2 separate regions of the Homo sapiens genome follow, and region 1 is linked to region 2. Evidence: fine-mapped QTL for protein levels in blood plasma. A gene starts in region 2. The other region holds a variant in brackets. All regions are shown on one strand. Distances are between the middles of the regions.

Region 1 (16,199 bases), 16 kb after region 2:
GTCTCAAACTCCTTACTTCAGATGATCCGCCCTCCTCGGCCTCCCAAAATGTTGGGATTACAGGTGTGAGCCACCGTGCCTGGCCTGAGTAGCTTTAACGGGGTGACCCTGGCCATGTGCCAAGCCCCATCCCCTGTCTCTACCTCCGGCTGCTGTATTTGAGGCCCCTTCTTACTGCCCTCTGCTTGCAGGAAGGTGGGTTCTTCCTTACTCTGCTGGCCTCCCGACCTCCCCTGGGTACCAAGCCACCTTAAGCATCACAAGGAAACAGGCATTACCTGGAAGAGTCCCCACCACCAGTTTCTTTCCAAATTGCTGCTGGTGGGCCAAGGTGCGGAGGCTCATGCCTGTAATCCCATCACTTTGGGAGGCCAAGGTGGGTGTATCACCTGAGGTCAGGAGTTCGAGACCAGCCTGGCCAACTTGGTGAAACCCCGTCTCTACTAAAACTACAAAAATTAGCGGGGCGTGGTGGTGCCTGCCTATAATCCCAGCTACTCAGGGGGCTGAGGTGGGAGGATCACCTGAGCCTGGGGAGGCAGAGGTTGCAGTGAGCTATGATCGTGCCACTGTACTCCAGCCTGGGTGGCAGAGTGAGATCCTGTCACAAAAACAACAGCAACAACAACAACAAAAATTAAGGAAGGGAATTCCAGGCAGAGAGGTGAGCTTGTGCAAAGGCCCTGGGGTAGGAAGTAATTTTCTTGTTGGAGGAGGTGAGGAGGCCGATGTGACTGGAGCAGAGTGAGGGAGGAGGGGGGAGATGGGTTAGAGAGATGGGCCAAGGTGGGATCACATGGGGGCCTTGCAAGCTGCAGCAAGGAGGTGGGTTTTATTCTGAGAGCAATAGGGAGCCATGGAGAGTGTGTGAGCAGGGGAGGAACATGATTTATGATTTTAAGCCATCTCTTGTGGCTGCAATGGGGAAGAGGCCAGGCAATGTCAAGGCAAGAGCTGGTGGGGCCAGGGCCAGGGCACGGCCACAGGGTGGGGAGGAGAGGTTAGATTTGTTTGTTTTGAAGCCTGAGAGGACTAGAGCTACTGATGAGCTTGGGAAGGAAGGGAGGGAGGAGTCTCAGACGCGCCCAGATCTTGAACCCATCACAAGGTGGTTGGTAGGGTTGTTGCCCGACACAGGAAGACTTAGCAGAAAACCATGAACCCCACCTTGGCCATGTTGTTGCTGAGGTGTCTGGTCTGGGCTGGCCAGGCTCCAGATGGAACCGTGGACCTTGTGGGCAAAGAGTGGCCTGTGACTTCCAGGCCTGGGCTGTGTGCGTTGCAGGGAGATGGGCAGGGGTCTCTGGCTGCGTCCTTGATCCCCATCCTTTGTGCAAACAGGTGGGGTGGGGCAGGGGGAACCCATGTTTTCCCCATCCCGGGTCCTTTTGTTCCAGTTGGAAGCCACGACCAATTCGAAAAGTCCAGATGTGGAGTTGGACGCAACCCTTGGACCGTGCGGTCTGGGGAGGCCAGTGGCCCGTCATCCAACAGGTCAGGCCTCCATGTGGCCTCGCTGGCTGTGGCCCGGCTGGGGCTGGGGGGCAGAACGGCTTTGATTTCGAGTCTCTGGCTGAATCTGCAAAGGTTAAAAAAATAATCACCAGCACCAAGGCGTTGCCCCTTCAAGACGTCAATCCCAACACCAGGCGGAAAAAACAGGCCCTGGGGCCCCTGCCAGCCCACAGGCCTGAGACCTGCAGAGGGGCCTGATCAGAAGGCCAAAAAGCTGGGTCCCCACATCTCTCCGGGCACAAGGGGAGACTCGGCTTCCCGTCTGGAACACAGGGCATTGCTGTAGAAGCGCATCCACGTTCAAGGTCAAGTGCAGCATCTACCTGCCTGCCAAGCCCTGGCCCAGGCAGTGGGGACCCATGAGGCGAGTCAAGGTTGGCCCCGGTCTGTAGGGCTCCCAGGCCAGAGATGGGGTTTCCCCATGCTGGTCATGCTGGTCTTGAACTCCTGACCTCAAGTGATCCACCCACCTTTGCCTCCCAAGTGCTGGGATTATGGGTGTGAGCCATTGCGCCCAGCCCCTTCCTTCATATTTACATAAAATACCCTTCTGTGACCCAGGACTTGGCTTAAATGTCAACACCTCAGGAGACCTTTCCCAACCCATGGGCAAAAATACCTACACCCAGGTATTTCTTTCAGACACTTCTCACTCTTGGAAATGATCTTCTCGGCTACATTTTCATGAGGTTGGGAACGTGGTTTATCCGCAGTTTGTGCCATTGTACCTGGCATATACTAGGTGAGATTGTCTCCTTGGGGACAAAGGAGGATGCTGGCTATCACAACAAAGTTTCACAAACATATACCCTCTGAGACCCCCAGACCTCCCCCAGCAGTGCCCCAGGATTTACAACCAGAACTTTATTTATTTATTTATTTATGAGCTGGAGTCTCGCTCTGTCGCCCAGGCTGAAGTGCAGTGGTGCAATCCCGGCTCACTGCAGCCTCGACCCCCTGGGCTTGGGTGATCTTTCCACCTCAGCCTCTCAAGTAGCTGGGACCATAGGCACATATCACCCTGTCCAGCTAATTTTTATATTTTGTAGAGACAAGGTCTTGCTGTGTTGCCCAGGCTGGTCTCAAACTCCTGGGCTCAAGTGATCCAACCACCTTGGCCTCTCTAAGTGCTAGGATTACAGGTGTGAGGTACCACACCTGGCCTACAACCCAGAAATTTGCCCTCAATAAATGGCAGAGTGAGGCTGGTCACAGTGGCACACATCTGTAATCCCAGCATTTTGGGAGGCCATGGTGGGAGGATCACTTAAGACCAGAAGTTCAAGACCAGCCTGGGCAACATGGTGAAACCCCCATCTCTACTAAAATACAAAAGAAATTAGCCAGGTGTGGCGGTGTGTGCCTGTAGTACCAGCTACTCGGGAGACTGAGGCAGGAGAATTTCTTGAACCTGGGAGGCAAAGATTGCAGTGAGCTGAGATTGCACCACTGCACTCCAGCCTGGGCGACAGAGCAAGACTCCTTCTCTAAAAAAAAAAAAAAAAAAAAAAAAAAAAAAAAAATAGGGCCGGGCGCGATGGCTCACGCCTGTAATCCCAGCACTTTGGGAGGCCAAGGTGGGCAGATCACAAGGTCAGGAGATCAAGACCCTCCTGGCTAACATGGTGAAACCCCGTCTCTACTAAAAATACAAAAAAATTAGCCGGGCGTGGTGGCAGGTGCCTGTAGTCCCAGCTACTTAGGAGGCTGAGGCAGGAGAATGGCGTGAACCTGGGAGGCGGAGCTTGCAATAAGCAGAGATTGTGCCACTGCACTCCAGCCTGGGCGACAGAGCAAGACTCCATTTCAAAATAAATACATAAATACATAAATAAATAATAGGCAGGCACAGTGACTCATGCCTATAATCCCAGCACTTTGGGAGTGCCGTGGTAGGAGGATCACTTGAGACCAGGAGTTCAAGGCCAGCCTGGATAACATTATGAGACCTCACCTCTTTTTTTTTTTTTTTTTTTTGAGACAAAGTCTCCCTCTGTTGCCCAGGCTGGAATGCAATGGCGTGGTCTTGGCTCATTGCAACCTCTGCCGCCTGGGTTCAATCGATTCTCCTGCCTCAGCCTCCTGAGTAGCTGGGATTACAGGTGCGCACCATGACGCCCAGGTAACTTTTGTATTTTTAGTAGAGACGGGGTTTCACCATGTTAGTCAGGCTGGTCTCGAACTCCTGACTTCATGATCTGCCTGCCTTGGCCTCCCAAAGTGCTGGGATTACAGGCGTGAGCCACAGCACCCGGCCGAGACCTCATCTCTTAAAAAAAAATTAGGCCAGGCATGGTAGCTCATGCTTGTAATCCCAGCACTTTGGGAGGCTGAGGTGGGGCTAAGGTCAGGAGTTCGTGACCAGCCTGGCCAATATGGTGAAACCCCGTTTCGGCTGGGCGCGGTGGCTCATGCCTGTAATCCCAGCACTTGGGAAGACAAAGGTGGGTGGATCACGAGGTCAGGAGATCGAGACCATCCTGCCCAACATGATGAAACCCCGTCTCTACTAAAAATGCAAAAATTAGCTGGGTGTGGTGGCACGTTCCTGTAATCCCAGCTAATCAGGAGGATGAGGCATGAGAATTGCTTGAACCCAGCAAGCGGAGGTTGCAGTGAGCCGAGATCGCGCCACTGCACTCCAGCCTGGTGACAGAGCGAGACTCTGTCTAAAAAAAAAAAGAAAAAAAGAAAAGAAACCCCGTTTCTACTAAGAATACAAAAATTAGCTGGATATGGTAGCAGGCACCTGTAATCCCAGCTACTTGGAAGGCTGAGGTAGGAGAATTGCTTGAACTCAGGAGGCGGAGGTTGCAGTGAGCTGAGATTGCACCATTGCACTACAGCCTGGGTGACAGAGCGAGACTCCGTCTCAAAAATAAATAAATAAAATTAAAAAACAATAATAAATAAAATAAATAAATGGCAGAGTGGTTTGAGTCATGCTGGAGGCGCACAGGCAGCTATGGAGGGTCAGCAGGAGGGACTGCTATGCTGCGACTGAAGGAGAGATGAGAATTGGCCTGGTAAGAGGCCACAGAGGGTGCTCGGGTGGGGGGACCAGCGTGTGTAAAGGCTTGGAGGCGACAGAGAACGATGGAGTGTTTCTGGAACTGTGTGTAGAGGGGCCCAACTCACACAGAGTGAGGGGAGAAAGGGCCATACTGCTGGAAGGGCCCACAAGCCCTGGGACGATGGGACTTGGACTCCATCCCAGGGCAATGGGGAGCCATGGGAGGTATGTGAGCAGAAGGCACATCAGACCTGTACCCCCTCGTCCTGTGCCAGGTACCGAGAGGCTCCCTCCCAGACCTGGGAACCCCATGGGCTCAACATGCATGGTAGACACATCTCAAAGCAGTTTTATGTGAATTCCTGAGGAGAGCTGTCTCCAACAGGCCAGGCCACCCGCTATCCTCACCACCACGGGGCTGGGGAGGTCTGTCGTCCACAGGAGCCTCCCAGACCCAGATAATGCGCTGACAGCTGCCTGGCCCTGCCTGGGCCTCGAGGCCTCCCCCCAGCATGGCTGGGTTCCCCCGAGGCCCGGGTCTGACTACCCCTTCCCGGCCTGACTACCCCTTCCTGGCCCTCGGTGGATGCTGAAGACATTTCTTCTTATTCCGCTGGAATTTTCCTCGTGGACCATGCCAGCGCCTCCAGAAACACATGAAAGGAAAATGTTTCCAGTCTGAGCAGGGCTGTTTTATTGCTCTCCGGGCTGGGAGTCTGACCACAGAGTGGAAAGGGCTCGTCATACCACTGTTCCTCCTGCTGAAGCGGCTCGGACCCGGCCCGCCCTGCCATGCCCTCCTTGGAGGCCCGGGTTCTGCAGGGTTTTTTTTTTTTTCCTTTTTTTTGAGAGAGGGTCTTGCGCTGTCACCCAGGCTGAACAGGCTGGGGTGCAGTGGTGCGATCTCGGCTCACTGCAGCCTCCACCTCCTAGGCTCAAGCGACCCTCCTGCCTCAGCCTCCTGAGTAGCAGGGACTACAGTCTCTTGCCACCA[T/C]GCCTGGCTAACTTTCCAAAACTTTTTGTAGAGATGGGATCTCCCTATGTTGCCCAGTTTGGTCTTGGACTCCTGGGCTCATGTGATCCTCCTGCCTCGGCCTCCCAAAGTGCTAGGATGACAGGCATGAGGCATTGCTCCTGGCCTCTGCAGGGTTTTTCCAGCTAAGGAAAGTTTCCCCTGCCCTTGTCCCCCTGACCAGGGAGCAACTCCCTCAAAAAATAGAGGTTGGGGGCCGGGCACACTGGCTCATGCCTGTAATCCCAGCACTTTGGGAGGCTGAGGTGAATGGATCACCTAAGGTCAGGAGTTCGAGACCAGGCTGGCCAACATGATGAAACCCCGTCTCTACTAAAAATACAAAAATTAGCCTGGTATGCTGGCACATGCCTATAATCCCAGCTACTCAGGAGGCTGAGGCACAAGAATCTCTTGAACCTGGGAGGCGGAGGTTACAGCGAGCTGAGATCTCACCACTGCACTCCAGCCTGGGTGACAGAGTAAGACTCTGTCTCAAAAAAGAAAAGAAAGAAAATAGAAAAGAAAAGAGGAAAGGAAAAAGAAAAATAGAGGTTGGGAGCTCAACCTTGGAGCTGATGCGTTTTTCCATCGTTTATTCATTCAACAGTCTACTTTTTTCCCAGAGTGTGCCCATTTCTGCATCGGGTGCTGGGGCGCAAATGGGAACAAGGAGGATCTGTCACTATTCTTTGGGAGCTCGTGGAAAGGTGGAAGGGGGGGCTTCATGTGACCCCATTCCCAGAGCTGAACATGGAGGCTTGGGGGGAAGCTGCTTGCCTGAGATGGTGCAAGGGAATAAGTGACAGGGTCAGAACGCAACACACAGAGTGGCTCCAAAACCGGTTTTCTGGTGTGGTGGCCCGTGCCTGTAATCCCAGCCACTCAGGAGGCTGAGGCAGGAGAACTGCTTGACCCCTGGAAGCTGCACTCTAGCCTGGGCAACAGAGTGAGACTCAGTCTCAAAAAATATATAAAATAAAATAAAATAAAGTGCACAATTCCCTGGCATTCAGTGCACACACCATGTTGTGCAATCACTACCTCGATCTACTTCCAGACTATTTCGTCACCCCGTAAAGACGCTCCGTTCCCATCAGCGGTCACTCCCCCTTCCTCTCCCCAGGCCCTGGCAACCACAAATCTGCTTTCTGTCTCTGTGGATTTGCCAGTTCTGGCCATTTCCTACAAATGGAATCACACACTATGTGACATTTCGTGTCTGGCATCTTTCACTTGGCATGTGTTTTTGGGGTTCGTCCATGCTGTAGCAGGGAGCAGTGCATCCTTCCTCTTTTGTTTTGTTTTTGTTTTGTACTTCATTCCTTTTTGTGGCTGAATCATATTCCATTGCATAGATGGACCACATTTTGTTTATCCATTCGTCTGTTGAGGGACATTTGGATCATTTCTACTTTTTGGTTATTTAATTTCCTTTTATTTATTTATTTTATTTTTGAGACAGAGTCTCACTCTGTCGCCCAGGCTGGAGTGCAGTGGCGTGATCTCGGCTCATTGCAACCTCCGCCTCCTGGGTTTCAGAGATTCTTCTGCCTCAGCCTCCTGAGTAGCTGAGACTACAAGTGCGTGCCACCACACCCCAGTAATTTTTGTATTGTTTTGTGTTTTTTTTTTTCCTTTTTGAGATGGAGTCTCACTCTGTCACCCAGGCTGGAGTACAGTGGCACAGTCTCGGCTCACTGCAACCTCCGCCTCCCAGGTTCCAGCGATTATCCTGCCTCAGCCTCCCAAGTAGCTGGGACTACAGGTGCATGCCACCACGCCCGGTTAATTTTTGTATTTTTTAGTAGAGATGGGATTTCACCATATTGGCCAGGCTGGTCTCAATCTCCTGACCTCATGATCCATCTGCCTCAGCCTCCCAAAGTGCTGGGATTACAGGCATGAGCCACCACGTCCGGCCCTAATTTTTGTATTTTTAATAGAGACAGGGCTTCACCATGTTGGCCAGGCTGGTCTCGAACTCCTGACCTCAAGTGATCTGCCAACCTTGGTCTTCCCAAGTGCTGGGATTACAGGCGTGAGCCACCGAGTCCAGCCTTTTTTTAGGGGACAGCAGGGTAACTCTCCGTCACCCAGACTGGAGTGCAGTGGCGTGATCATGGCTCATGGCAGCTTCAACATCCTGAGCTCAAATGATCCTCCTGCCTCGGCCCCCAAAATAGTTGGGACTACAGGTTCATGCCACTATGCCTGGCTTATTTTTTCTTTTTCTTTTTATTATTTATTTATTTTTTGAGATGGAGTTTCGCTCTGTCACCTAGGCTGGAGTGCAATGGTGCGATCTCAGCTCACCAAAATCTCCGCCTCCCGGGTTCAAGTGATTCTCCTGCCTCAGCCTCCCGAGGAGCGGGGATTACAGGCATGTGCCACCATGCCCGGCTAATTTTGTATTTTCAGTAGAGACGGGGTTTCTCCACGTTGGTCAGGCTGGTCTCAAACTCCCAACCTCAGGCGATCTGCCCGCCTCAGCCTCCCAAAGTGTTGGGATTACAGGCGTGAGCCATCACGCCTACTTCCTTTCTCACAATTTTAAACAGTGCTGTTATTGGCCTGGCACCGTGGCTCATGCCTATAATCCCAGCACTTTGGGAGGCCAAGATGGGTGGATCTCTTTGAGCTCAGGAGTTTGAGACCAGCCTGGGCAACACGGTGAAACTCTGTTTCTATAAAACATAACAAACAAACAAACAAACAAACAAAATTAGTCCGGCTTGGTGGCTCATGCCTGTAGTCCCAGCTACTCAGGAGGCTGAGTAGCTCTGTCGCCCAGGCTGGAGTGAAATGGTGTGATCTCAGCTCACCGCAACCTCTGCCTCCCAGATTCAAGCGATTCTCCTGCCTCAGCCTCCTGAGTAGCTGGGATTACAGGGGCCCACCACTACGCCCAGCTAATTTTTTGTATTTTTAGTAGAGACAGCATTTCACCATGTTGGCCAGGGTGACCTTGAACTTCTGACCTCAGGTGATCTGCCAGCCTCAGCCTCCCAAAATACTGGGATTACAAACATGAGCCACTGTGCCTGGCCTAGACCTCATATTTTTAAAAGCAGCTAGTCAGGGTTTTTTAGAGAAATAGAAGCAATTGGATAGGCATGTATTGATAGAAAAAGATTTATTGTGAGGGATTGGCTCACACACTTATGGAGGCTGAGAAGTCCTACTATCTGCTGGCTGCAAACTGTGGACCCAGGAAGCCAGTGATGTCTTTTTTTTTGTTTTTTTGTTTTTGTTTTTCTTTCTTTCTTTTTGAGATGGAGTCTCACTCTGGCCCAGGCTGGAGTACAATGACGCAATCTCAGCTCACTGCAACCTCCACCTCCCAGGTTCAAGTGATTCTCCTGCCTCAGCCTCCTGAGTAGCTGAGATTACAGGTGCGCACCAACCATGCTCCGTTAATTTTTGTATTTTTTAGTAGAGATGGGGTTTCACCATATTGGCCAGGCAGGTCTCGAACTCCTGACCTCATGATGCACCTGCCTCGGCCTCCCAAAGTGCTGGGATTACAGGCGTGAGCCACTGTGCCTGGCCTCGTTGTTTTTCTTGAGATAGAGTCTCACTCTGTCACACTGGCTGGCGTGTAGTAGCACAATCTTGGCTCACCGCAACTTTCACCTCTCGAGTTCAAGCGATTGTCCTGCCTCAGCCTCCCGAGTAGCTGAGATTACAGGCACGCACCACCACATCCCACTAATTTTTGCATTTTTTTGTAGAGATGGGTTTTCGCCATGTTGCCTAGGCAGGTCTTGACCGCCTGGGCTCAAGCGATCCTCCTGCTTCGAACTTGCAAAGAGTTGGGATTACAGGTGAGAGCCAGAACATCTCTCGTTTGATCTTGTCACCTTCTAACACATGACACCAGTTTCTTATTCCTGATGGCTTTGTTATTGTTCTTCTCTCTACTAGAGTCGGCTACATGAGGCCACATGGTCGTCTGTGAATTGGGGACAGTGACACCCACCTCGATGTGTATATAGGGTGGGGGTCCACAGGGCCCACAGGGAAGTGTATTTGGTTTCCCACCATCACACCTTCCAAAACAGCCTCGGTAGCCGGATGTGGTGGCTCATGCCTGTAATCCCAGCACTTTGGGAGACTGAGGCAGGATGATTATTTGAGGCCAGAAGTTTGAGACCAGCCTGAACAACATAACAAGACCCCTGACTCTACAAAAAATTAAAAAATTAGCCAGGTGTGGTGGCCCATGCTTGTAGTCCCATCTACTGAAGAGGCTGAGGTGGAAGGATCACTTTAGCTTGGGAAGTCAAGGCTGCAGTGAGCTATGATCGCGCCACTGCACTTCAGCCTGAGTGACAGAGCGAAACCCCGTCTCAAACAAGCAAACCAACAATAATAAAACAGCCACAGTGAACTTCCATCCAAAATATATCCCAGGCTGGGCGCGGTGGCTCATGCCTGTAATCCCAGCACTTTGGGAGGCCAAGGTGGGCGGATCACTTGGGGCCAGGAGTTTGAGACCAGTCTGGTCAACATGGTAAAACCTCTTCTCTACTAAAAATACAAAAAATTAGCTGGGTGTAGTGGTGCACGCCTGTAATCCAAGCTACTAGAGAGGCTGGGGCAGAAGAATCGCTTGAACCCCGGAGGTGGAGGTTGCAGTGAGCTGAGACCGTGCCACTGCACTCCAGCCTGGGAGACAGAGCACAACTCTGTCTCAAAACAAAAATAAAAACAAAAACAAAAAACAAAATATATCCCAGCCTGAAGCCTGGCTCGGGAATTCCAAGGGGTCTGCAGGGGCTACCTTCCTCTCCAGACACTGTCAGCAACCTTTACCACCCTCAATAGCAGCCTTGAGTCTCTGCAGCAACCAAAGCTTTGAGGCCAAGCCAAAACCCACCTCCCTGACACGCTAGCACATCCCCAAAAAAGCAACCTGTGATCGTAGAATCAAGGTGGCTGCCGGCTTGCCCCCGCCACCTGAGGTTTACACAGACCCACCATCCCCTTCAAAGACACTGTTCAAAGCAAGGAGAGCTCTAACACAGACACACACACACCTATTTTTCTTTTCACTACCAGCATGCCCGGGTGTGCCTGAGGCTTGGCTGTGTATCCAGATCCCACAAGGGGCTCCTTTGAAACAGGAATGGGGCCACAGAGGAGGGGCCCACAGGAACCCGCAAGCACCCACTGTTCCTAGGGAGGAGTGCTGTACATGGAGGGTCCCGGGTCCACCCGAACTGGCCACACTTCTGCAAGGGCAGCCACCGCGAGGGCCACGTCTGTGGAAGCTGGGAGCTCAACAAAAAGGGTTTCTTTTTTTTCCTTTTTTTGAGATGGAGTCTCACTCTGTCACCCAGGCTGGAGTGTAGTGGCGTGATCTCGGCTCACTGCAACCTCCGTCTCCCTGGTTCGAGCGATTCTCCTGCCTCAGCCTCCCGAGTAGCTGGGATTCCAGGCACCCACCACCACGCCTGGCTAATTTTTGTATTTTTTAGTAGAGACGGGATTTCACCATGTTGCCCAGACTGGTTTCGAACTCCTGACCTTCAAGTGATCTGCCCGCCTCAGCCTCCCAAAGTGCTGGGATTATAGGCATGAAACACCGTGCCCTGCCAACAAAGTGGATTTTAAAGAGACCCAAGTCTGGGCTGGGAGAAGCCACTGCAATATCCTAAATATCCTTTTCCCAAAGCCGTGGAATTTCTCTGCAGCGGCCAGGGCCAACGCTTACCCTCGAGGGACCTCTCTTGGTATGAAGGAAAAATTCCATTTTCCTGGACCTGGGGAAGCTGATGTGGAACTCGAGGAGGGGCCAGCCTACGTTGAGAGCAGACACAGGGCACAGGGTAGGTTATAAATTTAGGACTCCAGGCTCAGGGGCGTGACCAGGCTGATTTAGGTCTTCAAGCAGGACAGTGCTAGGGATGGCCTCATTCAATATTTTTTTCTTTTCTTTTTTTTTCTGAGATGGAGTCTTGCTCTGTTGCCCAGGCTGGAGTGCAGTGGTGTGATCTCGGCTCACTGCAACCTCTACCACCCGGGTTCAAGCGATTATCCTACGTCAGCCTCCCGAGTAGCTGGGACTACAGGTGAGCGCCACTAGGTCTGGCTAATTTTTTGTATTTTTAGTAGAGACGGGGTTTTGCTGGGTTGGCCAGGCTGGTCTTGAACTGAACTCAAGTGATCCGCCCACCTGGGCCTCCCAAAATGCTAGGATTACAGGCATGAGCCACGGTGCCCAGCCTCATTCATTTTTTTTTTTTTGAGATGGGATCTTGCTATATTGCCCAGGCTGGTCTAGAATTCCTAGGCTGAAGGGATCCTTTTGCCTCAGCTTCCTGAGAACCTGGGACTACAAGTGCATGCCACCATGCCTGGCAAGGTTGGCCTCATTCTGTCTGGAACCCGGCCTAGACTGGGCGAGAGAGACACTTGTGATAAAGACCCATGGAGACTTCAATTTGTCTGAAACTTTTAAAAAGTTTCAATAATGAGCCGGGTGCAGTGGCTTATGCCTGTAATCCCAGCACTTTGGGAGGCCAAGGCAGGAGGATCACTTGAACCCAGGAGTTTGAGACAAGCCTGGGCAACATGGTGAGACCCTGTCTCTATAAAAAAGTAAAAAAAATTGGCCAAGCACGGTGGCTCACACCTGTAATCCCATCACTTTGGGAGGCCGAGACGGGCTGGATACCTGAGGTCGGGAGTTCAAGACTAGCCTGACCAACATGGAGAAACCCCATCTCTACTAAAAATACAAAATTAGCCGGGCGTGGTGGCGCATGCCTGTAACCCTAGCTACTTGGGAGGCTGAGGCAGGAGAATCGCTTGAACTCAGGAGGAGGAGGTTGCAGTGAGCCAAGATCTCACCATTGCACTCTAGCCTGGACTAGAGTGAAACTCTGTCTCAAAAAAAAAAAAAGTGAAAAATGTAGCCAGGCATGGTGGCCCGTGTCTGTAGTCCCACCTGCTTGAAAGGCTGAGGCAGGAAGATTGCTTGAACCCAAGAGATCAAGGCTGCAATGAGCCATCACGGTGCCACCAGCCTGCACTCCAGCCTGGGCAACAGAGCAAGATCCTGTCTCAAAAAATATATATTCAATAATGAATCGTCACAATTTAGACAAAGAAAAGAACGCAAGCATTCATAAATAGCTCCTGCTCAGTGGCGGCTGGTCAGATACCAGGTGCCACCATATGCCCCTCATGTATCACTCTCTGGGGTGTTGGGGGTGTCACTAGATTCCATTTCTCAGGTGAAACACAGAGAGACCAAGACATTGGAGAGAGGTCACACAGCAAGCAGATGGCTGGGCAGACATGTGAATTCAGACGTGATGTAGTTGACCCAGACTCACTATCTCCATCCCCTGTGGTTTGAACACAGTGATGTGTCATATGTCTGCCAGCACTTTCATCTTGAACTTCCCGGGCTCAAGAACTATAAGCAACACATTTCAGTTTTTCTTTTTTCTTTTTCTTTTTATCTTTTGAGATGGAGTCCTGCTCTGTTGCCCAGACTGGAGTGCAATGGTGCGATCTCAGCTCACTGCAACCTCGGCCTCCCGAGTTCAAGTGATTCGCCTGCCTCAGCCTCCTGTGTAGCTGGGAATCACAGGCACTCACCACCATGCCTGGTTAATTTTCATATTTTTAGTAGAGACGGGGATTTGCCATGTTGGCCAGACTGGTTTCAAACTCCTGACCTCAGGTGATCCGTCTGCCTTGGCTTTCCAAAGTGCTGGGATTACAGGCGTGAGGCCACTATGCCTGGCCCAGTTTTTATTTTTATTTTTGAGACAGGGTCTCGCTCTGTCGCCCAGGCTGCAGTGCAGTGGTGTGATCTCAGCTCACTGCATCCTCGACCTTCTAGGCTCAAGCAATTCTCCCACCTCAGCCTCCTGAGTAGTGGGGACTACAGGCCCACATCACCATGCCCAGCTAATATGTCAAAATTTTTTGTAGAGACAGGGTCTCACTATGTTGCCCAGGCTGTTTTCAAACTCCTGGGCTCAAGCGATCCTCCTGCCTTGGCCTCCCAAAGTGCTGAGATTACAGACGTGAGCCACTACACCTGGCCCCTGCCAAATATTTTTAATCCCCACTTGGTTGCGTCTGAAGGTGCAGGGCCGACTGATAGAGAAGATCACTGTATTGTTTGTTAGGTTTTTAAAAATAGCTAGAAAAAAAAATCTGCACCATAAGACAGGTTGAGAAAAAATAACTAGTAGCCAAGTAAACAAAAGTGGTCATGGGCCCTCCAGTGATGACTAGACCAAGCACTGTTTTTATTCTCAGCCTCTCCATATGACATACTAGAAAATCCCTCTGGAGAGGGGATTACATGCAGATGCCAGCCGGATGCGGTGGCTCATGCCTGTAATCCCAGTACTTTGGGAGGCCGAGGCGGGCAGATCACTTGAGGTCAGGAGTTCCAGACCAGCCTGGCCAACATGGAGAAACCCCTTCTCTACAGAAAATACAAAAAATTGGCCAGGTGTGGTGGTGGGCACCTGTAATCCCAGCTACTTGGGCTGAGGCCCAAGAATTGCTTGAGCCTGTGAGGCGGAGGTTGCAGTGAGCCGAGATCGCGCCATTGCACTCCAGCCTGGGCTACAGAGTGAGACTTTGTCTTTAAAAATATATATATAAAAAATAAAAATAAATAAATGCAAATGACTGGGCCCACCTAGGACTCTCTTAAACTGAGTGCCTGGGTGGAGGTGGAGGGTGATCCTCGGAGACTGTGCCCCTCGAATCCGAGATGTCTGCATCCAGGGGAAGTCTTGGTGCCTTTGAAAGTCCTTTTGTCCCCACTGGGACAAATTATCCCTTTTTTGTTGTTTTTTGAGACATGGTCTCGCTCTGTCACCCAGGCTGGAGTGCAGTGGCTCGATCTCGGCTTACTGCAAACTCCGCCTCCCGGGTTCAAGTGATTCTCCTGCTTCAGCCTCCCAAGTAGCTGGATTACAGGCATGGGCCACAACACCTGGCTAATTTTTGGATTTTCAGTGGAGACGGGATTTCACCATGTTGGCCAGGCTGGTCTCGAACTCCTGTGCTCAAGCGGTCCTCCCTTCTCGGCCTCCCAAAGTGTTGGGATTATAGGCGTGAGCCACTGCGCCCAGCTGACAATTTCTTTTGGGTGATTTTTTAGAGTCTCCAGTTGAATCCCACTTCCCAAGCCCCATGCCAGATTCAAAGACAGCTCACGTCTCTGTCCAAGCCTCAATCTCCCCCTCTGGAAAATGGGTTGATACCACCTGCTCTCAGAATTGCTGGGCACTGCTTGTTAACTGATGGTGTCCTGTTTTTTGTGTCACACTAAGGTTTCGCAACCTCAGCATGTTGACGTTTGGGGCAGGATAGTTCAATTTTTGTGGGGGACTGTCCCGTGCATCATAGATGTTTAGGAGCATCCCTGGCCCCTACCCACTAGACGACAGTAAAGAGTTGCTGGATTCAGCAAATATAAATACAGAAAACCCCGTTAAACGTAAACTGCAGATAAACAAATACTGCTTCTGCCTAAGTATGTCTCAAATGTTGCATGGCACATACTTATACTAAAAAGACATTTGAGCCAGGCGCGTTGGCTCACGCCTGTAATCCCACAACTTTGGGAGGCCAAGGCGGGCGGATCACGAAGTCAGGAGTTCAAAACCAGCCTAACATGGTGAAACCCCTCTCTACTAAAAAATAAAAATTAGCCAGGCGTGGTGGCAGGTGCCTGTAATCCCAGCTACTCAGGAGCCTGAGGCAGGAGAATCGCTTGAACCCGGGAGGTGGAGGTTGCAGTGAGCTGAGATCGTGCCACTGCACTCCAGCCTGGGTGACAGAACGAGACTCCGTCTCAAAATAACAAACAAACAAACACAACTCACAGAATAGGAGGGAACATTTGCAAATCATGTACCTGCTAAGAGATTTGTATCCAGAATAGAAAAATAACTTTTTTTTTTTTTTTTTTTTGAGATGGAGTCTCGTTCTGTTGCCCAGGCTGGAGTGCAGTGGCGTGATCTCGGCTCACTGCAAGCTCCGCCTCCCGGGTTCAGGCCATTCTCCTGCCTCAGCCTCCCGAGTAGCTGGGACTACAGGCGCCTCCACCACGCCCGGCTAATTTTTTGTATTTTTACTAGAGATGGGGTTTCACCGTGTTAGCCAGGATGGTCTCGATCTCCTGATCTCGTGATCCACCCGCCTCGGCCTCCCAAAGTGCTGGGATTACAGACGTGAGCCACCGCGCCCGGCCGAAAAAAACTCTTATAAATCAACAATAAAAAGATAAATAACAGAATGTATTTGTTTAGTTATTTATTTTTCAGAGACAGGATCTCACTGTGTGGCCCAGACTTGAGTGCAATGGCCCCATTCTAGCTCCTAGCTCACTGCAGCCTTGAATTCCCGGGCTCAAGCGATCCTCCCACCTCAGCCTTCCAAGTATCTAGGACTACAGGTGTGTGCCACCATGCCTGACTAAGTTTTTGCTTTTATTTTTGGTAGGGAGACATCTTGCTGTGTTTCCCAGGCTGATTTCAATCTCCTGGCCTCAAGCAATCCTCCCACCTTTGCCTCTCAAAGCACTAGACGGTGTATTTTCTTACAAGGGCAGTGATCCCATCATGCGGTACTCCCCTCATGACCTCATCTAACCGTGATCACCTCCTAGAG
Region 2 (10,321 bases):
CTCCCCGGTCTCTTCTCTGAGTCTCTGTCCCGCTTTTCTGCCCCGTGGCGTCTCTCACTTCCCCAAAACTCTCTCACCGCTTCTGTCTCTTTTTGTCTCTGTTTCTACACACCCCATCCCATTCCCGTTCGTCCGTCCACCTCTCCGTCAGCCTCCATCTCCTTCCGTCTCTTTTCCTCCCCAGCTTTCCCTGGCTCTCTGTCTCTGTCTCTGTGTCTCTGTCTCCCGTCTCTTCTCTCTCCCGACCGCCCCGCCGCGCTCACCGCACGCGTCACACTCCATCACCGTGTTTTTCAGGAACGTGATCTCCCTGACCTGCAGGGGTGGGATGGAATCAGCGGGGTCCCAACCTCTCCTCATCCCTCGGGTCTCCCCTCTCTCTACCCCGGGGTCCCTTTCTACAGCCTCTTTTCGCCAAGGACTCCCTACCCGCCGACCCCCTTCCCTCCCCATCTCCTCTCCACCTTCTCGGGTACTTCCTCTCTCCTCGCTGGGAACTGAGACCCCCTTCCGTTCCCTGGCACTCCCTGCCCCGCACCCGGGCCCCGCACCTGCTGCCGCAGCAGCTCCCGCACGTCCTGCAGCGCCGCGTTGGTTTCCTGCAGTTCCCGAAGCATCTGCGGGCCCAGGTCTGAGCCTGCGGCGGCAGGGGACCTGGTGAGGCGTCATGGGGCCGGGGAATCCCACCACCAACTCCCACCGTTGCAGCGAACCCGGACCTCCGAGGCCCCACTGCGCTCCTCTAGTCTCGGTCCCGCCACCTGCTTTCTGCGCCCGGCACGTCCCCTACGAACAGTCCGTGAGCCCCAAACAGCCTGGATCCCGGGCCTCTCACGGGTCCTACAGTCCGTTGTGGGGCCGTGGGCACGGCGCGGGTGCTAACGCGGCTTACCCAACGGGCTCTGGCCCTGTCCGGACGCGCCGAGGGCAGCCAGGGTGAGCAGAAGAACGCAGGCGGTGTCGGGGACCATGGCGGTGGCGGGGAGCTGGGTGGCTGCTCGCTTTCTACCGCCCACGAGGCCCGCGGGGCCTATTTATCCCCAAGGCACGGCCGGCCCCAGGGACGGCCCACCACAGCCCTGCCCAACGTCCAGCCTCAAGGTAAACAGATGGCGCTGGCCCCTGCGTTCAAGTCCCCGCCCGGAATGCCCCGCGAAGTCGCCCGCGGCTGAATCCGACATGGTGGGGAAACTGAGTCCCGGGGTCTGTGGAGAGAGCTGGTGGGGCAGGGAGTCAGGGGGTACTGCCCCCACTTTCATTCACTGTGTGTGTGCGTCTGTGTGTGTGTGTGTGTGTGTGTGTGACGGGGTGTGGCTGTATCGCATCCTCTTGCTTCAGTCTCCCATGTAGCTGGGACTACAAGCCCGCACCACCAAGTCCAGCTAATTTATTTTTATTTTTATTTTTATTTTTAGAGACCGGGTCTGGCTATGTCCTGCAGGCTAGTAGTCTCAAACTCCCGGCCTCAAGCGATACTCCCCACATAACTGGGATTACAGGATCCAGCCATAGCATTCAGCTCATTGATTGATTGATTGATTGAGTGCTTGCTGTATGCCAAACCTGAGTTCCAGTTCCAAACAAGGCAGGCTCCATGGCCACGCTCTCAGCTCACACTTCGGGAAACAGAGTCACCAGCGTCTGAAAAAATAGGTCCACCCACTATGGATCAGACTGACTGGCCCTCCACTCCTCCTGAAGTGCTTCAAAACTGGGTAAGTTGCTGGGTGCGGTGGCTCACACCTGTAATCCCAGCACTTTGGGAAGCCAAGGCGGGCAGATCACCTGAGGTCAGGAGTTTGAGACCAGCCTGGCTAACATGGTGAAACCCCATCTCTACTAAAAGTACAAAAATTACCCAGGCGTAATTCCTCCCTTGCACAATGGAGGTAATAAGTTAATAATTATTAATTAATGATTAATAGTAATGATGATTATGATGATGAATGGAAAATAGGGGAGGGGCAGTTGAGACCTGGGACTCTCAATTTTCCTGCCTCTGTCCAAGGAGGCCGCTTCTGGCCCCAACGCTGGAGGGCTGCAAATGACTCCCCCCAACCCAACTCATTGCTGGTGTTCCCTCCCCTCCCCATGGTCCCTCGGCTGGTGGAGGAGGGGACAGCGTTCAGGATCTTGCCCCAACCCCTGTCCAAGGGGACAGGCCCACTTGGTTTTCCAATCTGCGCAATGGGGTGTGAGGCCCCCATCTGGAGGGGAGCAAGTTAAAGGGCTCTAGCAAGGGGAGGTCCGGGGCTTCTGTTTGTCCAGGCTGTGCCATACCTTCCAAACTGTGCTCCAGCTGCTGTGGGAACAGCCTGTAATAAAAATAAAAGTTACCGCTAACTGGCCAGCCACACTCTGGAGTTACAAAACCCCTTAACCTCCTGCAATCAGTTAACACTCTCCACTCCCACCTTCCAGTACTCACAGCGTCTATTCTATAGACAGAGAAACTGAGGCCCAGAGAGAAAAAGTGACTGGCCTAAGGCCACTGCCCGAGGGCAGGGGTGAATCTAGACTCAGAGCCAGATATGTTTTCTGGGGAGCCTACAGAGAAGTCACCGAGGGCTTCCTGGAGGAGGTAGCAAGGAGACAGACATAAAAGAAAAGGAGGACTTGGATCAGCAGAGGGAAAAGGTGAGGGCAGTTTTGGTGGAGGGAAGCATGTGAAGCTTGGAGGTGGGGACATTTCTAGACACAATAATTATTTCACAAACATCAAGGACTGTTGTGTGTCATGTCTCCTGTGCTGGGTGATGGGCACACAGGGTGAAGAAGCCAGACCCAGTCTCTCCTTCAAATGGGGAGCCCAGTGGGCTCATGGCTGTGACGGGACACACAGACAATGGTAGGAGTCCCCAGGAAATTGATCTGTTTGAAAGGGGATGGGTCAGGGCGGGCTTCTGGAGGAGGAGGGACCACCAAGCTGAGGACCGGATGATGAGGAGGACACAGCCAGGCAGAGGTAGCAGAAAGTCATTCCAGGTAGAGGAAACAGCATAGGCAAAGGCCCTGAGGCAGGAACCAACCTGGCCCGTTGGATGGACTGACCTCAAGGTGACAAGCTCTTGGGGCTCAGTGAGAAGCAGGAGATGAGGCTGTGTGTGAAAGGGCAGTGCTGGTGGTGTGGGGCTCCAGTGGTCTCCCGAGGGTAATGGGGAGCCACAGAGAGTGCGTGAAGAGAGACAGGCCTATAAGTGGAGTGTTGGTGGAAGCAGCTGGTCCCAGCCAGAGCATTTCCAATGAAGCCTGTCCTCAATAGTGCCTGCCCTGCCTGCTGCCTACATTGGGGCCATGAGCTCACCTCCTGTTTTCCTTGGCCTTCAGCACACCTGGGGGCCGCTCCTGGCAGCACTGGAATTCTCGGGAAAACCACAGCTCCAGTGGGGCCTGGGGGCTGGCATATGCTGCACACAGCTAGGACAGGAGCACATGGAAGCCAGGCCCCTGCCACAGGCTGGTCACAGTGCTGGGGCTTGGACACACGTGGCCTTATCCATGGCTGGGCCACGGGGAGTTGCAGGGAAGGGCATTCCAGGCGGAGGGAACTACAAAGGTGGAGTTCCTGAGGGTGTCCCAAGATCGGACAACAGAGGCCCGGAAAGGGGATGTCTGGGGTCACACTCCTGCCTCCTGGATCTCGCCAGCCCTGAAATCCCCCTTCTAGGCAGCAGTCCCCTCCTCCTGTGCACACCACACTTGCCTCAGATTACAGAATAACTCACTGTAGGTGTCATTCTGGGCCTTTGTACCTGCTGTTCCCCCCACCTCGTACAAACTCCTCCATCCTTCAAGGTCCAGCTATAATGTCCCCTCCTCCAGGAAGCCTTCCCTGCTGATATTCTCCAGATAACCTTCCAGCCTAGCCATGATCCTCGGGACTGTGAGTGTCTGTGGTTTGCTCTGTCCCTCCGAGCCTGAGGGGCTCCCACCCAGGGGCCTGGACTGGTGTAGAAAGGTTAGGCTGGAGGGCTTGGTGAGCCGGGACAGCATCCCTATGATTCGTGTTCATTACTATTTTTTTTTTTTTTTTTTGAGATGGAGTCTCACTTTTGTCGCCCAGCTGGAGTGCGATGGTGCAATCTCGGCTCACTGCAACCTCTGCCTCCTGAGTTCAAGTGATTCCCCTGCTTCAGCCTCCTGAGTAGCTGGGATTACTGGCACCTGCCACCACGCCCAGCTAATTTTTTTATATTTTTAGTAGAGACGGGGTTTCACCATGTTGGCCAGGTTGGTCTCGAACTTCTGACCTCAGGTGATCCACCTGCCTCAGCCTCCCAAAGTGCTGGGATTACAGGCGTGAGCCACCGCGCCTGGCCATTACTACTTTTTATAATTAATGTAATGTCATTACTATTTTTTTTTTTTTTTAAAATAGAGATGGGGGTCTTATTATGTTGCCCAGGCTAGTCTCGAACTCCTGGGCTCAACAGATCCTCCTTCCTCGGCCTCTCAAAACCCTGGGATTTCAGCCACTGCACCCAGCCAACATTATCATATGAATCCTAGTAACCCCTGCCACCTCTGTACTTGATATGGCAGGGAAGGGGGCCACACAGCCTGGGTTCAAATATTGGTGAGCATGGCCTTACTGTGTGACCTAGGACAAGTCACTTAACCTCTCTGTGCTTCAGTTTTCTCACCCATAAAATGAGGATGATCACTGTTGAGAGGATTGAATGAGCTGACCCATGGAAATCCTTCAGCCCAGCGCCCAGCTCCAGCGCTACTAGCGTGCTTATTCCATATGAAATTTATACACCGTGGGCCAGTGTGGTGGCTCACACCTATAATCCCAGCACTTTGGGAGGCCACAGCAGGTGGATCACCTGAGGCCAGGAGTTCGAGACCAGTGTGGCCAACGTGAAACTCCATCTCTACTCAAAATACAAAAATTAGCTGGACGTGGTGGCGCGTGCCTGTAATCCCAGCTAATCGGGAGGCTGAGGCAGGAGAATCACTTGAACCGGGGAGGCAGAGGTTGCAGTGAGCCGAGATCACATCACTGCACTCCAGCCTGGGCGACCGAGTGAGACCTTGTCTCAAAAAAACAAAACAAAACAAAAAAACTTATACCCTGTGCCTGTCGCTTATACCTCAGATCGTTCTTATTTCTATCTTACTCAGAGAGGAGAAGAGACAGTCTGAGGTCACACAGCCAGAATTAGAACTGAGGCATGCAAGACCCTCAAGCCCTTCATACCCGCCCTCTCTGTCCTTGCCACAGAAACAGAATCCAGCATTTCGCTGGCCCGAGCCCCTCATTAACTGGGATGTCTTCTCGGCCCAGGACCTCCTGGCCAGAGCATCTGGCCGGCGCCCCAGCCAGCCCCACACCAGGCCCCGTGGTTCCAGGAGCCCGGCCAGGCTGGGGAAGAGGGACGGGTGCCTGCATGATGGGGCCCCGGGGCCCTTCCTGGCAGACGTCTGCTCAGCCAGGAGACGTGTGGGCGCCCCGGCTCCCTGCCTCCCGCCCCCACCGTTGCCTGCCTTTGTGAATGCAGAAGGAAAGTATGTTGTGAAGGCAGCCGCCCTGCCCTGGGCGGGCCGGGCTGTAGGCCCCCAGTCTGCGGAATTCATCAGGGCGGCAGGGGAGGGCAGCTTGGCGACCTCTGCATCCTCAGCCTGCCTTGAACTGGGAGAGACGTACTGGAGGCATCTCTCTAGAAGGAACAAAAGGCAGGGGTGGGATGGGGGGCTCTGAGCTTTGAAGTCCAGGAGACGCCCCCCGACTGGCCGTGTGACCTTTGGCAGGTGCCACCTCCTCTCCCAGTCTCCTTTTTTTTTTTTTTTTTTTTGAAACAGGGTCTTGCTCTGTTGCCTGGCCTGAAGTACAGTGACAATCATAGCTCACTCATTGCAGCCTCCAACTTCTGGGCTCAAGTGATCCTCCCACCTCAGCCTCCCAAAGTGCTGGGATCACAGATGTGCACCACTGCACCCAGCCCCATTCTCCTTTTACTCAGTCCCTACCCCCATTGCATCCCAGGCTCTACTGGATGGCGATAAAGGAAGAAGACAACAATAAATACAGTGGCTACAGTTTTCTTGAGCAAGTGCCAAATGCTTGAAACCTTACCACTCAGCCTTTGTGGGTTTTCTCTTTCTGTCATCCCTTAAGTCCCAGAAGGCAGGAATTTGTCATCATGGGAGACAGTGGGGCACAGTGATGAAGGTCTCAGTCTCTGGCATCAGAGCCTGAGTTTCATATCCCAGCTCTGCTGTGGTACATGAGGCAAGTTGCTTAACCTCTCTGTGCCTCAGTTTCTTCTTTTTTCCTTTATTTCTTCTTCTTTTTTTTGCCACCTTCGAAAGTTTCTTATAATGTAAAATTTTACTTCTCAGGTTACTATACTGAAGAGTTGCTTCAGGAGAGAAAGAATTTCACCAGAGGCCGGGCGTGGTGGCTCACGTCTGTAATCCCAGCACTTTGGGAGGCCAAGGAGGGCGGATGACCTGAGGTCAGGAGTTCAAGACCAGCCTGGCCAACATGGTGAAACCCTGTCTGTACAAAAGTACAAAAATTAGCCGGGCATGATGGCAGGTGTCTGTAATCCCAGCTACTTACTTAGGAGGCTGAGGCGGGAGAATTGCTTGAACTCAGGAGGCGGAGGTTGCAGTGACCCGAGACTGCACCATTGCACTCCAGCCTGGGCGACAGAGTAAGACTCTGTGTCAAAAAAAAAAAAAAAAAAAAAAAAAAAAAAAAAATTCACTAGGAACAGATAGGAATTTCACAATATTCAATTGATACTGGTTTCTTTCTTTTTTCTCTTTTCCTTCCTTCCTTCCTTCCCTTCCTCCTTCCTCCCTCCCCCTCTCCCTTCCTTCTTCCCTCCTCCCTGTCTCTCTCTCTTCCTCTCTGTCTCCATTTCTTTCTTGTTTTTGAGGTAGGTTCCCGCTCTGTCACCCCAGCTGGACCGCAGTGGTACAAACACAGCTCACTGTAGCTCAAACTCTTGGGCTCAAGCCGTCCTCACACCTCAGCCTCCTGATTAGCTGGGGCCAAAGGCATGTGCCACCACACCTGGCTAATTTTTTTTATTTTGTAGAGACAGGGTCTTGCTCTGTTGCCCAGGCTGCTCTCTAACTCCTGGGCTCCAGTGTCCCTTCCATCTTAGCCTCCAGGGTAGCTGGAATTACAGGCATAACACCTATATTTAATGAAGGTTTCATGCAGTCAAATAAACTAGTGTCTGTGTTCTGAGGGGAGGAGAGTGCCTTCAGGGCTAACTGTAGAAGCTTTGTTCTCTCCTTCAGTCTCTCTGTCTAATGAAGTGAAAATGGAAATGTGTAAAGTTTTACGCAAGGTAACGGTAGCAGGAAAAACCAAGGTGAATATAAGTATGAGAAGAATCCTGACCTCTTAGCGTCAGTGTAAGAATTGAATGAATTAGCGCCCAGAAAGTTCACAGCCCTTGCTTGGGAGGCGGAAGTGGGAGGATCGCTTGAACCTAGGAGTTCAAAACCAGCCTGGGCAATATAGCAAGACCCTGTCTCTAAAACAAAACAAACAAACAAAAAAAAAATTTAAAATTAGCCAGGCATGGTGGTATGTGCCTGTAGTCCCAGCTACTCAGGAGGCTAAGGTGGGAGGATGGCTTGAGCCCAGAAGTTTGAAGCTGTAATGAGCTATGATTGTACCACTGTACCCCAGCCTGGGTAACAGAGTAAGACCTCGTCTCAAGAAAAAGAAAGGCCCAGGCGTGGTGGCTCACGCCTGTCATCCCACCCCAGCCTGGGTAACAGAGTAAGACCCTGTCTCAAGAAAAGGAAAGGCCCAGGCGTGGTGGCTCAAGCCTGTCATCCCAGCACTTTGGGAGGCTGAGGCAGGTGGATCACTTGAGGTCAGGAGTTAGAGACCAGCCTAAGCAACATGGTGAAACCCCATCTCTACTGAAAATACAAAAATTAGCCAGGCATGGTGGTGCATGCCTATAATCCCAGCTACTCAGGAGGCTGAGGCACGAGCGTTGCCTGAGCCCAGGAGGCAGAGGCTGCACTGAGCTGAGATCATGCCACTCTCACTCCAGCCTGGGGTGACAGAGTAAGACAGAGTAAGACTCTGTCTCAAAAAAAAAAGAAAAAAAAAAAAGGAAAAGAAAGAGCTGAGCCCTCAATCAATGTCAGCTATTAACATCCCCATTTTACAGGTTGGCAAACTGAGGCTCAGCAAGTCTGTCCTGTCTCCTCAATTTGGTCACTGGATGCTCAGAGTGGGAAGTCACCTCCTACCGCTGCCTAAGGCTCCAGGAGAGAGTCTCCCAACCAGGCTTCTGCAGTTCCCGCTGGAGAAGGTAGGGTGGGCTGTCAGCAGAGAAAGTGGAGAGTGCAGGGACCAGAGCACTACTGCAGTTCCTCAGTACCCCTCGTGCCCCTCCCAGCCCCTACCTGGGCTCATTAACAGGAGGCCCTTGTTCAGGGGAGTGATGGATGGCGTGGGAGGCCGAGGGCGGGGTGTGTTTACCCACCGGCGGCTGCAGACAGGAGCCCAGGCCAGGGCCGGGCCAGTAGGGGAGGGAGGCTCCCAGGTAGGGAGGAGCCCAGCCCCAATACTGCTGCACGGAAAGGGGCCAGCTGGGCCCCTTCTGGAAACAGAGGCCAAGGGTCAGGGAGGCCATTCTGCTGGGGAAATTGGTGCCGAGAGTTGAACAAGTGAACAGGTGCCAGCAGAGCAGAGCCCCAGGCAGAGGGCACAGCAGGGGCAAAGGCCCAGAGGTGGGTATGTGCTTGATGTGTTGGAGGTTCCGCGAGGCGTCAGGAGTGGCTGCAGCAAGCGGGGAGGGGAAATGGAGGAAATCTTCCGGCTGTGAGCCATGTTTAGGCTCCATGGGCGTGTCCATTCCCACATCTTTCTGCACGCCAGGCCCTTACCTGGGCTGTGACCGCTCCCTGGTGCCCTGTCTGCTTTCACATGGCTCATTCCTCACCCCGGCTGGCTTAGAGGCTCCCGCTGGCCTTCACAGGCCCTTGGTGTGCTCCATCAGAGCTGTGACCATGCTGTATGGGCACTGCCAGGTTACACGGGTCATGGGGCTGCCTCCTCCATCAGACTGAGCTCCACCATCTTGTTCCCCTCTGTGTTCCCTGCATATACACATGATGGAATACTCCAATAATGGATGGACAGATGGATGTATAAGTGGATGGATGGATGAGTGGATGGATGGATGGATAAGTGGATGGATGGATGGATGGATAAATGAGTGGATGGATGGATGGATAAGTGGATGGATGGATGGATGGATGGATAAATGAATGGATGTATGGAGGATGGATGGATAAGTGGATGGATGGATGGATGGATGGATGGATAAGTGCATGGATGGATGGATGGGTAAGTGGATGGATGGATGGGTAAGTGGATGGATGAATGGATGGACAAGTGGATGGATGGATGGATGGATGGATGGATGGATAAATGGATGGATGGATGAATGGATAAGTGGATGGATGGATGGATGGATGGATAGGCAAATGGATAAATAAGTGAATGGATTGATTAATGGATGGATGGATGATGTATAAGTGGATGGATAGATGGATGGATAAGTGGATGGCTGGATAGACAGATGGATAGGTGGATGGGTGCAAAGATAATGAATTGATGAATAGATGGATGAATGATGTATAAGTGAATGGATGGATAGGTAGATGGATGGGTGAATGGATGGATGGATAAGTGAATGGATGGATAAATGAATGGATAAGGAGATATATTGTATGGATGAATGAATAAGTGAATAAATAATGGATAAATGGATACATTTATACATGTGGATGGATAATGTATAAATGGATGGATAAACAGATGAATGGATGCATAAGTGGATGTATAAATGAATGAATGAATGGGTGGATGGATAGATAAGTGGGTATATAGATGAATAAGTGGATGGATGGATGAGTAAGTGGATAAATGGATGGATGGATAGGTGGATAGGCAGCTGAATGGATGGATGATGTAGAAGTGGATGGATGGATGGATGGATGGATGGATGGACAGATAAGTAGATGGATGGATAGATAAGTGGATGGATGGATAAGTGGATGAATGGGTGGATGGATAGATGGATGGATGGATGATGGAGTAAAGAAAAGCTACAAGACCACAAAACAAGGATCCACAGGACTAAGAAATGACAGAATCACATCACTGGTTAATGGAGCAACTGAACTGTGGAGTCCTAGGGCCACGGGACCACAGAGTTAGAGATCCACGCAGTCCAGTCAACAGAAGCACAGAACCGAAGGGTAGTTGGAAGCTATAGGACCCCAGTGGGGGCAGAGACAAGCCATTGGGGCATCCCACATCCACGGT

Which allele goes with the higher level. Alleles are on the strand shown, and positions count from the first base shown. The strength of an association depends on the size of the effect and on how common the allele is.
As copies of C replace T in region 1, the plasma level of the protein whose gene starts at base 1,007 in region 2 goes up (weak association).

Evidence for each region. PIP is the posterior inclusion probability: the model's chance that the variant is causal. Protein levels are from antibody-based Olink assays in UK Biobank. Linkage for the fine-mapping came from a reference panel and not from the study's own genotypes, which makes the PIPs less certain.
Region 1: its variant is fine-mapped to the plasma level of the COMP protein (UK Biobank, PIP 0.92).

The regions. Positions count from the first base shown.
Region 1 is chr19:18,802,980-18,819,178 of GRCh38, forward strand. No RefSeq gene overlaps it. Among named protein-coding and RNA genes, the nearest start is that of COMP, 20 kb to the left of the region's middle. RefSeq lists a silencer at 3,201-3,495. The variant T/C (reference allele first, on the strand shown) is at 5,523.
Region 2 is chr19:18,790,299-18,800,619 of GRCh38, forward strand. COMP (cartilage oligomeric matrix protein) reads right to left here and starts at 1,007. Exons shown (of 19, transcript NM_000095.3): 1 at 893-1,007; 2 at 552-637; 3 at 264-315. The coding sequence starts at 971. RefSeq lists enhancers at 1-166, 167-747, 748-1,326, 4,882-5,411.